Regions from separate parts of the Homo sapiens genome. Here region 2 is linked to region 1. A link means that fine-mapping ties the variant in region 1 to the expression of a gene that starts in the linked region. Tissue or cell type: minor salivary gland. Region 1 holds a variant in brackets; the other region holds the start of a gene. All regions are shown on one strand. Distances are between the middles of the regions.

Region 1 (8,178 bases):
TACTAATACTCTACCAGCATTACTGAAAACAATTACATTGTTCTCATATGCTCTCCCCATTCTCCACCCAGTTTCCTTATCCCATCTGTATCTACACGGTCAGAAAATGTAGCCATCACACGCAAAACATAGGTCCTAATAAGGGAAAAGGAGTGAGGCTGGCAAAAAAAAAAAAAACTCAGATAAGCTATAAGTCTGCCTTTCTTCTTGATCCAGAACACATAGCCCTCCTGCACAAATAACTCACAACCTTCCCACACCTGACTCATCACCAGACCCTTGGCTGATAGAAAAATGCAAGTTAGCTCGCTGCAACCTTGGTGTTAGCGATACTTCACATGGCCCACTCCAGCACACAGCACGAGCACCGTCCTGCGAAATCCCCAGCAAGCCTCTGTCTCCTGGCAGTCAGCTCCTCTCTTGCTGATCTGCCCATTGCACCCTTGCAACGTCTTTCTTTTCTTTCTTTCTTTCTCTCTGTCTCTCTTTCTCTCTTTCTCTGTTTCTCTCCTTCTCTCCTTCTTTCCTTCTTTCTTTCGACAGAGTCTCACTGTCACCCAGGCTGGAGTGCAACAGTGCGATCTCGGATCACTGCAACATCCACCTCCCAGGTTCAAGTGATTCTTCTGCCTCAGCCTCCTGAGTAGATGAGACTACAGCCATGCACCACCATACCTGGCTAATTTTTTTGTATTTTTAGTAGAGACGGGGTTTCACCATGTTGCCCAAGCTGGTCTCAAACTCCTGACCTCAGGTAATCTGCCCACCTTGGCCTCCTAAAGTGCTAGGATTACAGGCGTGAGCCACTGCATCCTACCTTTTTTTTTTTTTTTTTTTTTTTGAGACGGAGTCTCGCTCTGTCGCCCAGGCTGGAGTGCAGTGGCGGGATCTCGGCTCACTGCAAGCTCCGCCTCCCGGGTTCACGTCATTCTCCTGCCTCAGCCTGCCAAGTAGCTGGGACTACAGGCGCCCGCCACTACGCCCGGCTAATTTTTTGTATTTTTAGTAGAGACGGGGTTTCACCGTTTTAGCCGGGATGGTCTCGATCTCCTGACCTCGTGATCCGCCCGCCTCGGCCTCCCAAAGTGCTGGGATTACAGGCGTGAGCCACCTACCTTTCATACTTCAATAAATCTGCCTTTCTTTACCTACAACTGTCTTGGTAAATTCCTTTACTTCCAGTGACACTGGCCCCAAGTAGTCGCTATCCAAGACACTATACTCTCCTTTTCAGCCTTGGTTTAGCCTTGGTTCCTTATCTAGTGCTTCCATTGAGGACTCTATTGGTTGCCTGAAGGTCATTCTCTGATAGGCTCCTTGGGCCCCTCAGACCCTGAGAACATTATTTCCTGAGTCCTTTGGGGCTGCTTTTTGTTTGTGCCTTTTATACTCCAAAGTCTGTTTTGCTGGGTGCATAGTACTTGGCTCACATTTTCTCTCGAGTATTTTAAGTACAGTATGTTTCTCCTTTTTCTTCTGGCAGAACGTGTTGTGGTTGAAAAGTCGCACGACAATCTAATTTTTATTTTAGTATAAGTCCCTCACTCTTTTAACCTGGACTCAAGGATTTTTTTTTTTTTTTTAGATTGGTAATTTTACTAGAACATGTTTTGATGTTGGTTACCCTGGGTCTGTCTTCTCAAATACATGGTGTACTCTTTCAATATGTAGTTCCAAATCTTTTTGTTTTAGGGAAGTTTTCTGAAGGTACAGATGTTTGTATTTATTCTGTTCTTTCCCTAGGGTCATCTCATGGGAAGAGATGTTAGTCTTGTCAAATGTTTTGTCACTGCCTAACTTGGGACCTCACTGTTCCTAGATGTCACCTCCTGCTGCTCCTGGCTCAGGGAAGGCAGCTTAGTCTCTCGGCAGAGCAGGCCACAGCCCCCAACACCCAGGCCAGCCCCCCAGCCAGCTGCTCCTGCAGCCAGACACCTCATTGTCCAACCACTGCCTGCGTCTGTGGGTCTACCTCACCCCCATCCAACATCCACAGGGCAGCCAGAGCCCCCAGGTCTCCCACCATGGTAAGAACACACCCAGCCCTAGAGGGGCAGGCAAGGCTCCCTGGGGGCACACCCTTGTCTCTATCTTCTTGTCTCCATCTTCCTCTCGTCTCCGTCTTCCTCTTGTCTTCTGGTCAGGTCAGTGCTGTTGCTGTGAGCGGGTTGAGGCTCTTGAGATGTGAACCACTGTGGGTTTCCCCCGGACTTCCTGCTACCCACAACCCTTCCCCCATCTGGGGTGAGTGGCCCGGGAAAGGGGTGGCAGAGCGATTCACGAAGAACAGAGGGGCTGAAATCGAGGCGGCAGCAGCAGAAACCCAGGCTCTGGCCATGCCCTGCCTGCCACCCAAGCCCACAGGGAGGGTGATACGAGGACAGACAGAGAGCCGGCCCCACCTCACTTTAGGCCAAGTCCCTTTCCAGGGTGGGGTGGGAATGACAGAAGCTCAGAAAAGTTTGGGGGAACTGAGAGAGAGGGGACTGGAAAGCCCTTTCCTTCACCTTCACTCCAGCCCGAGGCAGCCTCCCAGGCACACACATCTAGAGTGGCAGAGCGCATGTCCCCAGGGGCCCGAGGGTGTGCAGCTTTGGGCGGACCCACAGGGGCCTGTCTGTTAGACACAGGGCCCACAGCCATTTCCTGCATGGCGTGACGCCCAGAGACAGACGGAACTGGGGCCACCCGACCAGGTGTCAACACTCAGGGTCAGAGGCCCCAGCTCCATGCCAACCCCACAGCCTGGACTAGGACAGACTCCCAGGACAAGAGGAGGCCCCAGAGGAACTGAGAATAAGCTGGATAGTTAGGAACAAGCTGGCCACGACCCACATCACATTCAGCCCTAGAGCCACGTGCAGCATCGGGTACGGAGCGGGAGCTGATCAATGCTTTCAGAACTGGAAATCCCAAGTCATGTGAACAGAAGAATAGGTGCACTCTGTTTGACTAGTCAGGAAGCCAAGGAACTTGCCCAGTCACCCAGCAAGAACATGGGGACGCTGGGGTCTGAGCCGGGTATTCTCTGAGGCCTGAGCCCAGCCCACCACCCACCCATCACAAGCCATGCTGAGTGCTAAGTTGGCCCCAGCCTGGCTCCTGGCTGGTCTGGGCAGGCCACCACGGCCCTGGGGCTGCAAGAAGGTGTCGGGCTAATCCCCAGGGAGGGCACTCATCTGGGAGGGAGGCCTGGGCAACTCACGGAGCCAGGGGGTAGAATTGAGGCCTGAGCAAAGGCTATGCGGCTCAGCTTTGGAGTGTCTTCAAGAGAGAAGGATGCACCCCCTGCCGCAGAGCAGACCCTCCCAGCCCATCCACCCCACATGTACCCAGAAGAGGAGGAGCTTCTCAAAC[T/C]GGTTCCCCAGGGCCTGGCCTGGCCCGGGGCCCTAGCTGTCCACCCCTCTGGCCTGAGCCAGGTTTGATTTCCTGCTACTTTGGAGGGGAGGGGTCCCGAGGCACCTAGGCCCCTGCCACTCTGAATGCAAGTGCAGTGGCTGCCAGAAGCCACTCATCCATTCACCGATTCCAGTTGTGCCCCTGTTATATGTCAGGCACTGTTCCGGGTGAAGAGGGCGGCAGAGAGCGCGCTGGCAAGCTGGCCTCATGGAGCTGGCATTCTAGTGAGGGAGTCAGACACCAAGTGAGAGGTGACATTGAGAACACAGCTAAATTGACACAGTGCCAGGTATTGTTCTAAGTGTTTTGTTCATGTCACTTAATTGTCACAGCACCCATGACATAGATATATTGCTGTCTCCACTTGCAGATGGGGAGGCCGAGACACAGAAGAGTGAACCTGAGGAGTCTGCGGCCAGAGTCCATGTTAAATACGTGAAATGGAGAGGGTATCAGATGTGGGAGTGCAGAGCAGACAAGGAAAGCAGTAGCAGGAGAGAAGCGCATGTGTCTCTGTGCGCACGTGTGTGTGTACGTGCATGTATCTGTGTGTACAGGTGTGTGTGTGTGTGCATGTGTATGGGTGTACATGTGTATATCTGCATGTACCTGTGTGCAAGCATGTGTGTACTGTATGTGTGTATGCGTAGGTTGTGTGCATGTGTGTCTGTCTGCATGTATGCATATGTGCGTCTATGAGAGGGTGCATGTGTGGCTATGTGTGTATATCTGTGTGTGTGTCTGTGTGGGCCTTGCGGGAGGTTGGTCACCATTTCTTCAGTCTTGTGGGTATACTGCTCTCTGGAGGGGGCTCTCCCGGGCACTTGAGGTGGGCTCTGTGTCTCCATTATGTGATGTGACCAGGGCCACAGAAACCAGGCTCCCTGTGCCCACGCCCACCCACTCCAGACCTGGAGAAGGGAGGTGGCACGCACAAGGGTGCACACGGCTAGAAGCCTTACCAAGCAGATGGATGCAGAGATGGCTCATTCATTCATTCTCCTAGACAACGTGGCAGGCAATGCACTGAGTTCTGAGGAAGGACCGGGGGAAGGAACCGTATTGCTGGGGACACGTTCAAATCCCAGCTCTGCCACTGCAGCTGAGAACTGAAGGACTGCAGGCCTCCCTTGGAAAGTTGCCCTGGGGATGGGGAGCCGTCGGGCTGTGAAGCACACACCCACCCACCTCCTGCTGCCACACAACCTCACGCCCCCTTTCCTGACTTCTTTTCACCCCGTCTGGGCCTGACAGGCTCAGTCCTGTCACTCCTGCCCTCCAAAGTCCAGGGGAGCTTTGTCCATAGGGCCGACTGCTCTCCCCACATTCACCCCTGCTGGGGCTGGACAGACAACTGGGGCTGTCTGCCAGAAAAGGCAGGCCCTGTGTTCTATAGAGGCACTGGGCCACAGAGGCAGGAGTGGGCTTGAGAAACGGTGCTCCTCGCACAGGCAAAGATGGGAAGGCCCCAGGATAGGGCACTGGGGCCCACAGAGGGACTGTGACCTCACAGGTGGCCATGCCTGAGACTTGCCCTAGCAGCTGGGTGTCTGCTCCTGACAGGATATGGGGTTGCGCCTGGACAGAGTTGATGAGACACATGGACAAATAAGACACATGGAAGAAGTGCCCGGAGGCACACTGCGTTGAGCGCAGACACTACCAGTGTAGACAGCCACACTGTGACGCGTTGTTGAATGGGGTGAATAGATGAAACCTCAGGTCCCAGGTCCCTCCGTCTCTGTATGGATTTGTTTTGCTACTGCCGTTCCCCAGGGCCCCCCAGTGCCTGGCACACAGCAGGTGCCCGATACATACATGCCAAACGAATAAGGAAATGGGCAAATGAGAAGGTGTGATGGGAAGGACTCATGCTGCCAGGTGGCAGGGAGGTTCTGGGTGACTTTTTCTTTTTTCTGATTTTTAAATGGCTTTGTAATAACTACAGTATATATAACTTCTAATATGAGAAAAAAGTTATTTCAATGTTTTGAAATAACCACACAGCGAGGGTAGCCACAGGGACATGAAGGGGCTTTTGGCCAGAAGCAGCCCTGTGACTCCCTCACAGTCACAGTGACCAATGTGGCATCCACACACGGCTGCGACGTGGACGTGGCCCAGGAACCACTGGCGCCGAGGGCTGGGCTGGGACTTTCTTTCCTTTTCTCAGTTCCTCCATGGCTGTCATGTTCCTGGGTGATCAATCATATTCAGGAAGGAAGGCGGGGTGGGGGTGCCCCCTGTGCAGGGGGAGTCAGCCACGGAGGTGGGGGTCGGGGCCGTGAGGCTGTGAGGGCTCCAGAGCCCGGGCTGCTCACTTCACTTCTTGGAGCCCCCATTTTCCCACCTGTAAAATGGGGTGCTGACGCAGACCCCTGGTGGTTATGAGAAGTGGCTGCTGCCGGCTCGACACTACTGTGTGCCTGGGAGGCCTCTTTCCTTCCCTTTCCCTGCCCTGCTGCTCACAGGGTTGAGCAAGACTGCTTATGCTGGTTTGCTGCCCCCAATCTCAGAACCCACAGTGGCTGCACATGGCAAGGCTGGTTCCCACCCCACTCATCACTGAGCGCCACGGCCCTGCTGCGGGCACCTCGCCCCTCTGTAACATGGGATCAGTAATGCCCATCCCTTGAGCCCCTTGAGATGAGTGGCTATGCTCAGAGGGCCCTCTGGCCCCAGCCCCACCCTCCCTCGTGGGGACCTGCACTTTCTCTGGCAGATTCCTCTACTGCGCCTGGCCACAAATATGATCTTGATAAATAACTCATCTTCATCTTACTGAAGGGACTTAGGGCAGAGATCTAGTTTACAACATGGTCCCCACAGTGTCTGACTCTAGTAGACTTCAAAAAATAACTGTTGGATGGATGCATCAAAAGGTAGACAGGTAGATGCAGGTGGGTGAACCGGAGAATGAAGGATAGGTGAGTGGCTGGTGTGAGTTTCAGTCACCTCCTTACAGCTTGCTAATGGCAGAACTGGCAAGGGTCCCACTTCAAGTCCAGACACTCAACCGCTTCTCTGAAAGAGGTCTGTGCTGCCTTTCACTCACACCCAACAACACATCTGCGTTCACTGGATCTGCACGTCAGGGACCCCCACAATCGCACACGTCAGGGACCCCCACAATCGCACCACTCTCCGGATTCCTCCCTTGGGATCCACCCCAGGAGGTTCCAGCACCTCCGACCTAGGCACATGTTTAATTTCTCCCTCCAGACATTGGCAAGGTCAGCGTCACGGACCTGGAGCACATGGCATCACACAGAGCTTCACTCAAAGGGCCCCACGTTGGTTTAATGTTCTGCTGTCACCACCATGGAATTATCAATAATTTATCTTTTTTAACATAGCCATATCGTGAAACAGATGATTTTATCTTTAAACTCGTGTTTTGTAAGTGAAGTTCAATGGGACAGCGTCAGGGTGTGTGAGCAGAGGAGACCTGTGTAATCCAAGTGTCCGGGTCCTTGCCGCCCTGTCCACATTCAGCGTTCACCGTGTCCTATGAGCACAGAATTCTGGTGGGGCTGACGTACCTGGGACGTCTGAGATCCGGGTTCCTATGGGGTGTTGGCAGAATGCACGAGCCCCAGAGGTGACAGTGGGTTTAGATTTGTGCAGCCTTTCCATTGTCCTGTAAGATCGAAATACACGTGCCTGTACGAACTGTGCACTACCCATGTGCCATTGTGGCGCGTTAGTGCACAAGTGAGACGCTCTGCGCCTAAGACGGCATCGCACCGTAAAATGATGAGCCCAACAATTCATGCGAATGACTCGACTGCTTGTTTTTCCTTTACTTAGAATGACATTAATTACCAAACTTAAAGAACCACAGCAAGTCAGGAGGAAGGAAGGGAATGGGAGGAGCCGGTGCTGAGCCCCTCAGGCCGAGTCTGGGCCCTCCCGGGGCCGCAGGAGGACCCCTGGTGTCACCGCACTTTCGCAGAAAGACCCCTGGTGGTGTCCACGGGCATTCCTGTGTTGGCTCATTCATTCATTCAGCCAGTCACCCGCAGCACGCACCGCCCACCTTCAGCGTGGCCTGGGACAGGACACCGAGGGGTTCCAGGTAGGGATCAAGCTGGGGAGGGCACTGCAGGTCACAACGGCAGGTGAAGGCGAGGAGGAGACACAGCCGGGCCCACGAACAGGGTGAGAAGAGCTTCCTGTCACTAGCAGGGACAGCGCAAGGGGGACACTGCGAGCAGGAGGTCCCTTCTCTTCCCGTGCCTCAGGGTCCCCAGAAGGAAGCTAAGTGCCTGGCTCCGGCTCTGAAGTCCCGGGGGCCGGCTCGCCTTCCCAGCAGCAGAGAACTCCGCGGAGAGGGCGCGCGCCCCCTAGCGGGCCCGGGGAAGAAGCCGGGCCGGTCCCAGCCTCCGCTCCCTTGCATACGCCTCTCCGCCAGCCTCTCTGGGGAGGGGAGGATGCCTAGCAGGTCGTGGTCTCAGCTGAAGCTTCAGGAGGGAGCTAAGCCTGACCCTGTAGGGGACTCTGCAGGGTGAGCTTGTGGCAGCAGGGCTTTCCTTACCCCCACTGCTAGTGGTTGGCTGAGGGCTGCCCTGGGAGATCTGAATTCCCAGCTACTTCTGACTCTGCATGTACAGACAAAGCAGAATCTGGTAGTCCAAGATCAGTCCTTCAGATAAAAGCTTCAGGCTCCAGCCCTCTAGAGGAAGCACACCCAGGTCAGGGGAAGGATGCACACCCACCCGCACGGTCTCTGTGCACAGGTGCACAACTGGGGCTCAGTACGGAGAATGCACACGGGAC
Region 2 (8,178 bases), 40 kb before region 1:
AGGTTACTTGGTGATACAGGTTGTGGCTGCCCTGAACAACCAGACCCCGCCACCACCGAGACGCTAGTCACCTCTGCCAGTCTGCTGCAGGAGGTGAGGTCATTTCCCATTCTTCTGTCCCAGGTGCTGACTTATTAAACCCCTACCCAATAACCATCATTTTGGTTTTTAAAACTGCTAATTCAAAAGTAAAAACCAGAACACTCTAATTTACTTGAGTCACAGGTTAATTTCTAAGTTAGAGTACACAGTGGAATTCATCTTCACTATAGGATTGGCCATTATTAAGGGAATAAAACAGAAATTAATCAATTTTTTTATTGCTCTCCAACTGTTTAGTTAGAATTAAATGAAATTTTAAACCCAGTTTCTTAGCTCACTGGCCACACTACAAGCTCAGTGACCACATGTGGCCAGTGGCTATTGTACTGCACGGTGCAAAGAGAGGACACGAACTGCCATCACCCAGGAAGGCCAGCTGGCCAGTGCTGTTCTGAAACTGAAAGTCAGGACGATGTCCACCAAAAGCCATAAAAATGGAGCTTCACACGCAAGAATTATGCGGGTGACCTGTACTACGCAAGGTACTCAGAACACTTTCTACTCCTGTGTGATGGATTTATAATGGATCCTGTCACACCTATGTCTAGTCTCCATAGCAACCAATAATGGGGTTGGGGAGGGCTCTATAGTAAAGGGGTGGAGGGGAATGTAACTAACCACAGTAACTAACATTAGCCTGCATTCTCAAAGTCTCGGTCACCATTCCTAAAAAAACAAACACTACTCCCCCTTCTAGGAAATGAAACAAAAGGGCCCTCCACTATCCAACATGAAGCTGGATATTCCTCATACCTCCGGACCTCTGTTTTCCTGTGTCATCAAGAAGGAATGCCTGGGCCACAGAGAAATGGGGATTTGTAAAAGTCAAGGTAAAAATTATTTAAAAGCGGCCAGGTGCGGTGGCTCACACCTATAATCCCAACACTTTGGGAGGCCGAGGCGGGCAGATCGTGAGGTCAGGAGTTTGAGACCAGCCTGACCAACGTGGTGAAACCCTGTCTCTACTAAAAATACAAAAATTAGCTGGGCATGGTGGCACACGCCTGTAATCCCAGCTACTTAGGAGGCTGAGGCAGGAGAATTGCTTGAACTCAGGAGGCGGAGATTGCAGTGAGCCGAGATTGCACCATGGCACTCCATCCTGGGCAACAGAGCAAAACTCTGTCTCAAAAAAAAAAAAATATATTTAAAAGCCTTGGACATTCAAAATAGAACCGCCGAAAAAACATCTAAATAAATAAAATCATATGTTTGGTTAACTATAACATTAATATTGACCTTAAAAGTAGGATGGCTCCAAGAAATGGAATCCATCCCCTAACGCTCCTTATTTTCTTAGTCCTTCACTACTTTTCTCTCCACCCTTTGCCAAACCCCTAACAGAATCAAAAGACAGAGTAAAGAGGACAAAGTTAAGCATGCACAGTAGCAGACTGTCCATACTCTCACTTGACCTGGGAACATGAAAATGTTGCAGCGTGTTTAGTTCAGGAATGCACCACTGGCCAGGCGCAGTGGCTCACGCCTGTAATCCCAGCACTTTGAAAGGCTGAGGCGGGAGGATCACTTGAGCTCAGGAATTGGAGATGAGTCTGGGCAACACAGTGAGACCTCCTCTCTATTATTAACATAATAATAATAATAAAGAAATTGAAAAAAAGAAAGCACCACTGCAAATATTCCAGTTGATTCGCCCTGCCCTCAAAAGACATGTGTCACACCAAGCAACTAACACCCATGTTGTAACTGCCCCAGAGGAAAGACGTTCAACGGCTGAGGAGACCACAGCGGCAACTAGGTCACTTCCTATTCGAAGAAAAAGGAGGAGATGCCATCTGGCAAATTCGAGGTAGGGAGACAAATCAATCGATGACGTTGCGAGGAGACAGAGGTCAAACGGGATCTACTGACATGACAGGGCGTTGAAGGGAAGGAAAAGTTGAGGGAAACGAGGAAACTATTTCCATAGGAGAATGCTTTTTCACTGAAGTCGAAACTGGCTTGGTACTGACGCCCAGCAGGGGAAACTCCCCGGACACTCACAGACATTCATCTGGTTACTTGCAGGAACATCTGCCTTTCCTGGTGACACCCTCTGCCCTGCAGTCTTCATTTTCCCTGGATAGCCCAGCGTCATTTAAATACTCAGAAGCCTCTCTGCCTTTCTATGCTGTTGTCTGCAAAGAGATGAACGGACCTGTGCAGACGGCTGGCCAGTGACGCCGGGATCTCTAGGTAACATGACCCAGTCACGGTGTCACAGACAGGCGGACCAGGAGGAAACCAGAGACACAGATGGATTCCAGGGAAAGCCAGCGTTACAGAATTAAGAAAAGCTGGGGAAGAAAAAGGAAAACGAGAATTTCCAAAACTGCCGCTTTCCCAGCAGAAGGGAGATGAAGTTGTCACTTTGGCTGCGAGGGTGCAGAGATGGAGGAAGGGTTGGGGGTGGGGGTGGTACCGCAAGGGAGAAAAATAGCTATAGGCTTCATCGCAAAGGGGTTCATGCAGAATACGCGAGGCCGGCGGCTAACTCTAAGATTGCTCTCTCGTTATTCTGTGCCTGGTGCAAAACCCACTACTCAGGGGACAACACATCCCAGCATAAAGAATGAAATCATTTCAGCAGCGAGGGCTGGGCCCGCTAGACCGTGAGGCTCCGGCGGCTTCCGCCCGTTGTCTGGTGCACCCCACCTTCAGAAGCACCTGCCCAAGATGGGAGCGACTGAAGAGAGAGGCCCCAGAGACTCTCCGAGGGGCGGCACCCCCAGATTCCCGGCCGGCGGACCAAGTTCGCAGCTCTCAAAAGACATGTCTCACACCAAGGGCCCCGGGCGGGGAGAGGAGAGAAGAGGGGAGGGGAGCAGGGCGCTGCTCCAGGGCACCTGCCTGAGCTCGGGCGCGATCCCCGGCCACAGGCGCGCGGGGTCACCGCCGGGGGACCGGGACTCAGCCCTCGGAAAGTCCGCGCCAACCCACAGGGCACCCGGGCGCCCGCTCTCCGACTGCTGTCCCGGCTGCCGACTCGTGGCCCACGTCCGCCTCAGTTTCCCCGCCCCTCACCTGCTCGAGACTTCGGAGACTGTCCCGGGGGGCGCCCAGCAGCGCGCAGAGCTCCAGCAGCCCCGAGGGCAGCGACAAGTGCGGCGACGCGGCCTCCGCCATGGCTGCCCGCCGCCCGCCGCCAGTACCGCACTCGGGCGCCTCAGCCGCGCAGTCGCCCGCAGACCCCTGGGGACCAGCCGCGCCGCCTGGGGGCCGGGGGCGCTGCGAGCGCCGTCTGCGGGGCGGGGCTGGAGGCGGGGCCTGGAGGGGCGGGGCCCGAGCCGAGGCGGGGCCTGGAGAGCCCCAGAGGATACCGCGGGGAGACAGAGTTTGGGGGCGGGGCTTGACTGGGCGGGGAGGTTCTGGGCGGGGCCTGGAGTGGCGTGCCCGGCCCTAGGGACCGGGACTTGGGGGCGGGGCCGGTCCTAGGGCGGGTGCTGCTGGAGACCCGCGCGCGGTCGTCATTTCCTAACCCGCCTGCGGGCCCTGGCGCGTGCGCGGCGTCGGAGCAAGCGGCCCCTTCCTTCGGCCCCGCCCAGCCCCGCCGGCCGCCCGCTCCCTGGGGAACCGAGGGAGGAATGGGCGGGGTCCTCAGGTGCCCGGCGACGTCATCCAGCCCCCAAGGCTCCAGGACGCAAAGGGTCCCCTGATCTGGCAGTCCCTGGACCTACCCTGGAGAGCGTGGGGGGACAAAGGCCGGACGCGCCGCCCGCTGCCGCCTCCAGGAAGCCCTCCCTTGCCAGGACAGTGGAGTTGGCCGGGTGTGGACAGCAGGAAGGGCCGGCGGGAAGGGGGGGTGGAAAGAGCCACTCCTGGTTAATAACTCTGCGGGGTTAACCTAGGGCCGGCCATACTCAAGTACGGACTTGAGTAAAATTCAGCAGGAAAAGGAGCAGGGTGGGCGCCGCTAGAGGGAGGCTTCAGGACTGAGGGTCAGAGGCCCAAGGCCTGGCAGGGCCCTTCCCTGGTCAGCTCCAGGCTTGGCCTGATGCCCGGTGGGCCACGGGCCTCTTCCAGCCTCAGGCTGACCCCAGAGAAAGAGGACAGCCCACAAGCCCGGGAGGCCGGCTTGCTGCCTGGTCATTGCTGCAGAGCCTGGAGGGGGCCTGCGCTCAGTCCCCGCTGACCGTCCCCTCCCTTGACCCTGCCATAGCCATCTGTGTAACCCAGGGGAAATTATTCCAAAGGGACTTCCACTTCTGATAATCTATGATTCTATTTTCTAAAAAACAAAACTCTAAAATGCTTAATGTCAAACATCTGTCATCAGCTGAACAGGAAAAGGAACAGTAAGTACAAAGCAAGGCAACATCAGAAAAGGGAGCCCTGAGGAATTTCTCCCTCCTTCCCTGAGCCGGGTGAGGCCGTGACTGCAGCCTGACTCACAGGTTTTATTTCACTTATTAACCTAAAGATGGTGAGGATCTGCTGGTTCTCCCCCAGGCCTGGAGGCTGCCTACCATCGGTGGCTCTCATCGGTGAGCTGAGGCCACAGTTGTTATAGTCTCTGACTTCAAAAGAAAGACCGATTTCATGAACAATTGCCTGTCTCTCTCGACGGTGGCCTCGGTTTTTTGTTGTTGTTTTTCTGTTTGTTTTTGAGACAGAGTTTTGCTCTTGTAGCCCAGGCTGGAGTGCAGTGGCATGATCTCAGCTCACTGCAACCTCTGCCTCCCAGGTTCAAGCGATTCTCCTGCCTCAGCCTCCAGAGTAGCTGGGATTACAGGCGCCCACCACCACACCTGGCTACTTTTTGTATTTTTAGTAGAGATGGGGTTTCACCATGTTGGCCAAGCTGGTCTCAAACTCCTGACCTTAGGTGATCCACCCGCCTTGGCCTCCCAAAGTGCTGGGATTACAGGCATGAGCCACCACACCCAGCCTTGGTGGCCTCATTTTTAGCAGCCTCTGCAAAGCACACAGCCTGAATCCGTCACCTAGAGTCCCCAGCATGCAGGAGAGGCGCTCTCAACCCGGGCTGGAGCCATGAGCCACTCCCTGAGGGCACACAGGGCCTGAGTCTGGCTCCTGTGTGTTGCTGTGTGACAGGTGAGCTCAACAGCCCTAAGCCGTGACTTCCTGAGGGGCAGTGGTCAAGATCCAAGGGAGGTAAACACATGGCAGCTCTTGCCACCAGGACCCAGTAAGGCTCACGCGAGAGCAGGTCTCTGCTGTCCCTTTATCACCAAGAGGCCAAATGCTTTAAGGAAGAGAGCTCCAGCAGTGCACAGAGCTTGCAATCCACTCCTTTATGCCCCCTTTTCCTCCTCCTTAAAACCAGATAATTGGGCCAGATGACCTCTGAGGGGCTCCCAGTTCTGCACTTTTTAATACGCTCCCGTCTCTCATGCCACAGGTCCTTCCAAAGTGCCTACGGAAAGCTTTGTCCCATCCTTGAAAAATTGCTAATGGGTTTGGAGATACGAGGTGGAGATGACTAGCAATCAAACTCAAAGGTGGAAGTCACATCGAGGCAGATGAGCAGATGAGGGGACCTAGAGAAGAAGAGAGGTGCAAGGAGAGCCCAGCCAGCAGGAACATCTGCCCCAGTAGGCAGCACTGCCCCACATCAGAGTCGAGGAAAGCAAAGCTCGGATTGGATAAAAGAAACTTGCAAACACGGTCAGTGCTTACTGCATGTGGGCTCAGAGCACGTTACCCTCCTTCCCTGCATGTTCCTGTGAAACGGGTTTACTGCTCTAACTCTCAGGGACACTGTGAAGACCAAACGAGAAAATAGAAACAAACATAATTTATAAACCATAAAGTACTGACACCAAAAGAGGGGCGAGCACAGCATTGTGAATGTGCTGGTACTAAATGGTTTGTTTTAAGATGATTTTATGGTGTGTGAATTTCACTTGAATAAATTTTTTTAATGGAGTTCATGGGGACGCTGCAGGATGTCAATTAACTTTGGACATTTTAGCAGCGCTTTAGGTGTTAAAATTATTTTTTAAAAAATACAGGATGAAGGGAAAAGCTTCATGACATTGGATTTGGCAGTGATTCCTTGGATATGACCCCAAAAGCACAGATAACGAAAGAAAAAATAGTTAAATTGTCTTCATCAAAATTAAAACTTTTGTACATCAAAGAACTCTTTCAAAAGAGTGAAAAAGTCACAGAATAAGAGAAAATCATATACCTGATAAAGAATTAATATTCAGAGCCAGATGCAGTGGCTCATGCCTGTAATCCCAGCACTTTGGGAGGCCAAGGCAGGCAGATCACTTGAGATCAGGAGTTCGAGACAAGCCTGGCTAAAATGGTGAAACCCCAGCTCTACTAAAAATACAAAAATTAGCCAGGCGTGGTGGCGTGCACCTGGAATCCCAGCTATTCGGGAGGCTGAGGCAGGAGAATCGCTTGAACTCAGAAGGCAGAGGTTGCAGTGAGCCAAGATCACACCACTGCACTCCAGCCTGGGCGACAAAGTGAGACTCCATCTCAAAAAAACAAAACAAAACAAAACAAAACAAAGAGTTACTATTCAGAATATATTAAGAATTCCTACAACTCAACAACAAAAAAAAATCCAACCCAATTAAAAAATGGGCAACAGACCCAAATAGACATTTCTTAGAAGACACACAAATGGCCAATAAGCTCATGAAAACATGTTTAACATCACTAATCATTAGGGAAATGCAAATCAAAGCTAAAATGAGATACCACGTCACACTCATTAGGTGTTATTTTTTAAAAATAACACAACAACAAAAAATAAGAAATGTGGGCGAGGATGTGAAGAAATTGAAACCCTTGTGGACTGTTGTTGGGGATGTAAAATGGCGCAGCTGCTGGGGAAAACAGTATGGGAGTTCCTCACAAAACTAAACAGAATTGCCAAACGACCCAGCGATCCTGCCTCTGACATATACTGGAAAGAACTGAAATAAGGCGCTGGAACAGACACTTGTAACCCATGTTCACAGCTGAGCCAAAAGGTGGGAGTAACCCAAATGTCCATCAGTGGATGAATACTGGCAATAAAAGCTGTGTCTGGAGGCCACTCCGTTTCACACAGCTCTCCACACGGGTGAGGGCACAGCCTTCTCGTCTCTTTCCTATGCTGCATCTTCAGAGCTAGCTATGATATGATATGATGTGATATGTACATATCGAATATACATGTTTTACATGCAAATGCAACCAGTTTATTGAGGGCTTGATGGGGGATATGGGAGTTGCGGGGGAGAATGGTCTTGTATTTCCAATTTAAAAATAACAACAACAAAACGGGACAGAAGTGCAAGACTTTTAGTGTTCTCTAGAGCAATGTCACTCTGTCCCTAGACGAATGGTAGGAGCGGGACATGTTCATATGTCCTCGAGGTGTGACCGCACATGGGCACACAGTAGCCCAAAGCATATCCCAGCCGGGAGCAGTTCCTTTTATGGGGCCGCCTGGGCAGGATCCAAGGTGCTGGGTTTGAAACAAAAAGGAGTGACTCTGTCCCACACCAAGTAACACCAAACCTCACTGACCTCAGTTTTCTTATCTGTAAAAAGAGCAATGCGGGGGCTGGCTCAGTGGCTCATGCCTGTAATCCCAGCACTTTGAGAGGCCGAGACAGGTGGATCACCTGAGGTCAAGAGTTCGAGACCAGCCTGGCCAACATGGTGAAACCCCGTCTCTACAAAAGTACAAAATTTAGCCGGGCATGGTGGCACATGCCTGTAATCCCAGCTACTCAGGAGGCTGAGGCAGGAGAATTGCTTGAACCCAGGGGGCGGAAGTTGCAGTGAGCCAAGATCGCACCACTGCACTCCAGCCTGGGTGACACAGTGAAACTCCATCTCAAAAAAAAAAAAATTTTTTTTTAGATTTAAAAAAGCAATGCCTACCTTGCAAGGCTGCTGGGAAAATCAAATATGCCAATAGATGTGAACAAGCCCCGTGTAGAGAATGGAAAGCTGCCTGCCTATTATATTAGAGCTGTTTGGACAGACTAGGGAGCTCTCCTACCTGCATTAAAGGTCAAACTCTGGGACATCTACGAGACCCACCACAGTCTGGCCTCAAATAAGTGCTCCCGCCGCACCCCTCCCAAACAACTATGAATC

Alleles and levels. Positions count from the first base shown, and alleles are read on the strand shown. Sizes are in standard deviations (SD) of each study's normalised expression.
As copies of C replace T in region 1, the expression in minor salivary gland of the gene that starts at base 3,347 in region 2 goes up (moderate effect, 0.42 SD a copy in GTEx).

What was found. PIP is the estimated chance that this variant, and not a neighbour inherited with it, causes the effect.
Region 2: DENND3 starts here. The variant in region 1 is fine-mapped to the expression of DENND3 in minor salivary gland (GTEx, PIP above 0.99).

What each region holds. Positions count from the first base shown.
Region 1 is chr8:141,084,058-141,092,235 of GRCh38, reverse strand. No RefSeq gene overlaps it. Among named protein-coding and RNA genes, the nearest start is that of DENND3, 40 kb to the left of the region's middle. RefSeq lists enhancers at 2,305-2,434, 2,595-2,964, 4,579-5,079, 5,447-5,596 and silencers at 5,727-5,776, 5,807-5,876. The variant T/C (reference allele first, on the strand shown) is at 3,358.
Region 2 is chr8:141,123,758-141,131,935 of GRCh38, reverse strand. It overlaps DENND3 (DENN domain containing 3), which reads right to left and starts at 3,347. Exons shown (of 23, transcript NM_001352890.3): 1 at 3,127-3,347. The coding sequence starts at 3,228. DENND3-AS1 (DENND3 antisense RNA 1) reads left to right here and starts at 1,795. Exons shown (of 2, transcript NR_183310.1): 1 at 1,795-1,912; 2 at 5,465-7,258. RefSeq lists enhancers at 2,256-3,086, 3,920-4,751 and a silencer at 2,942-3,801.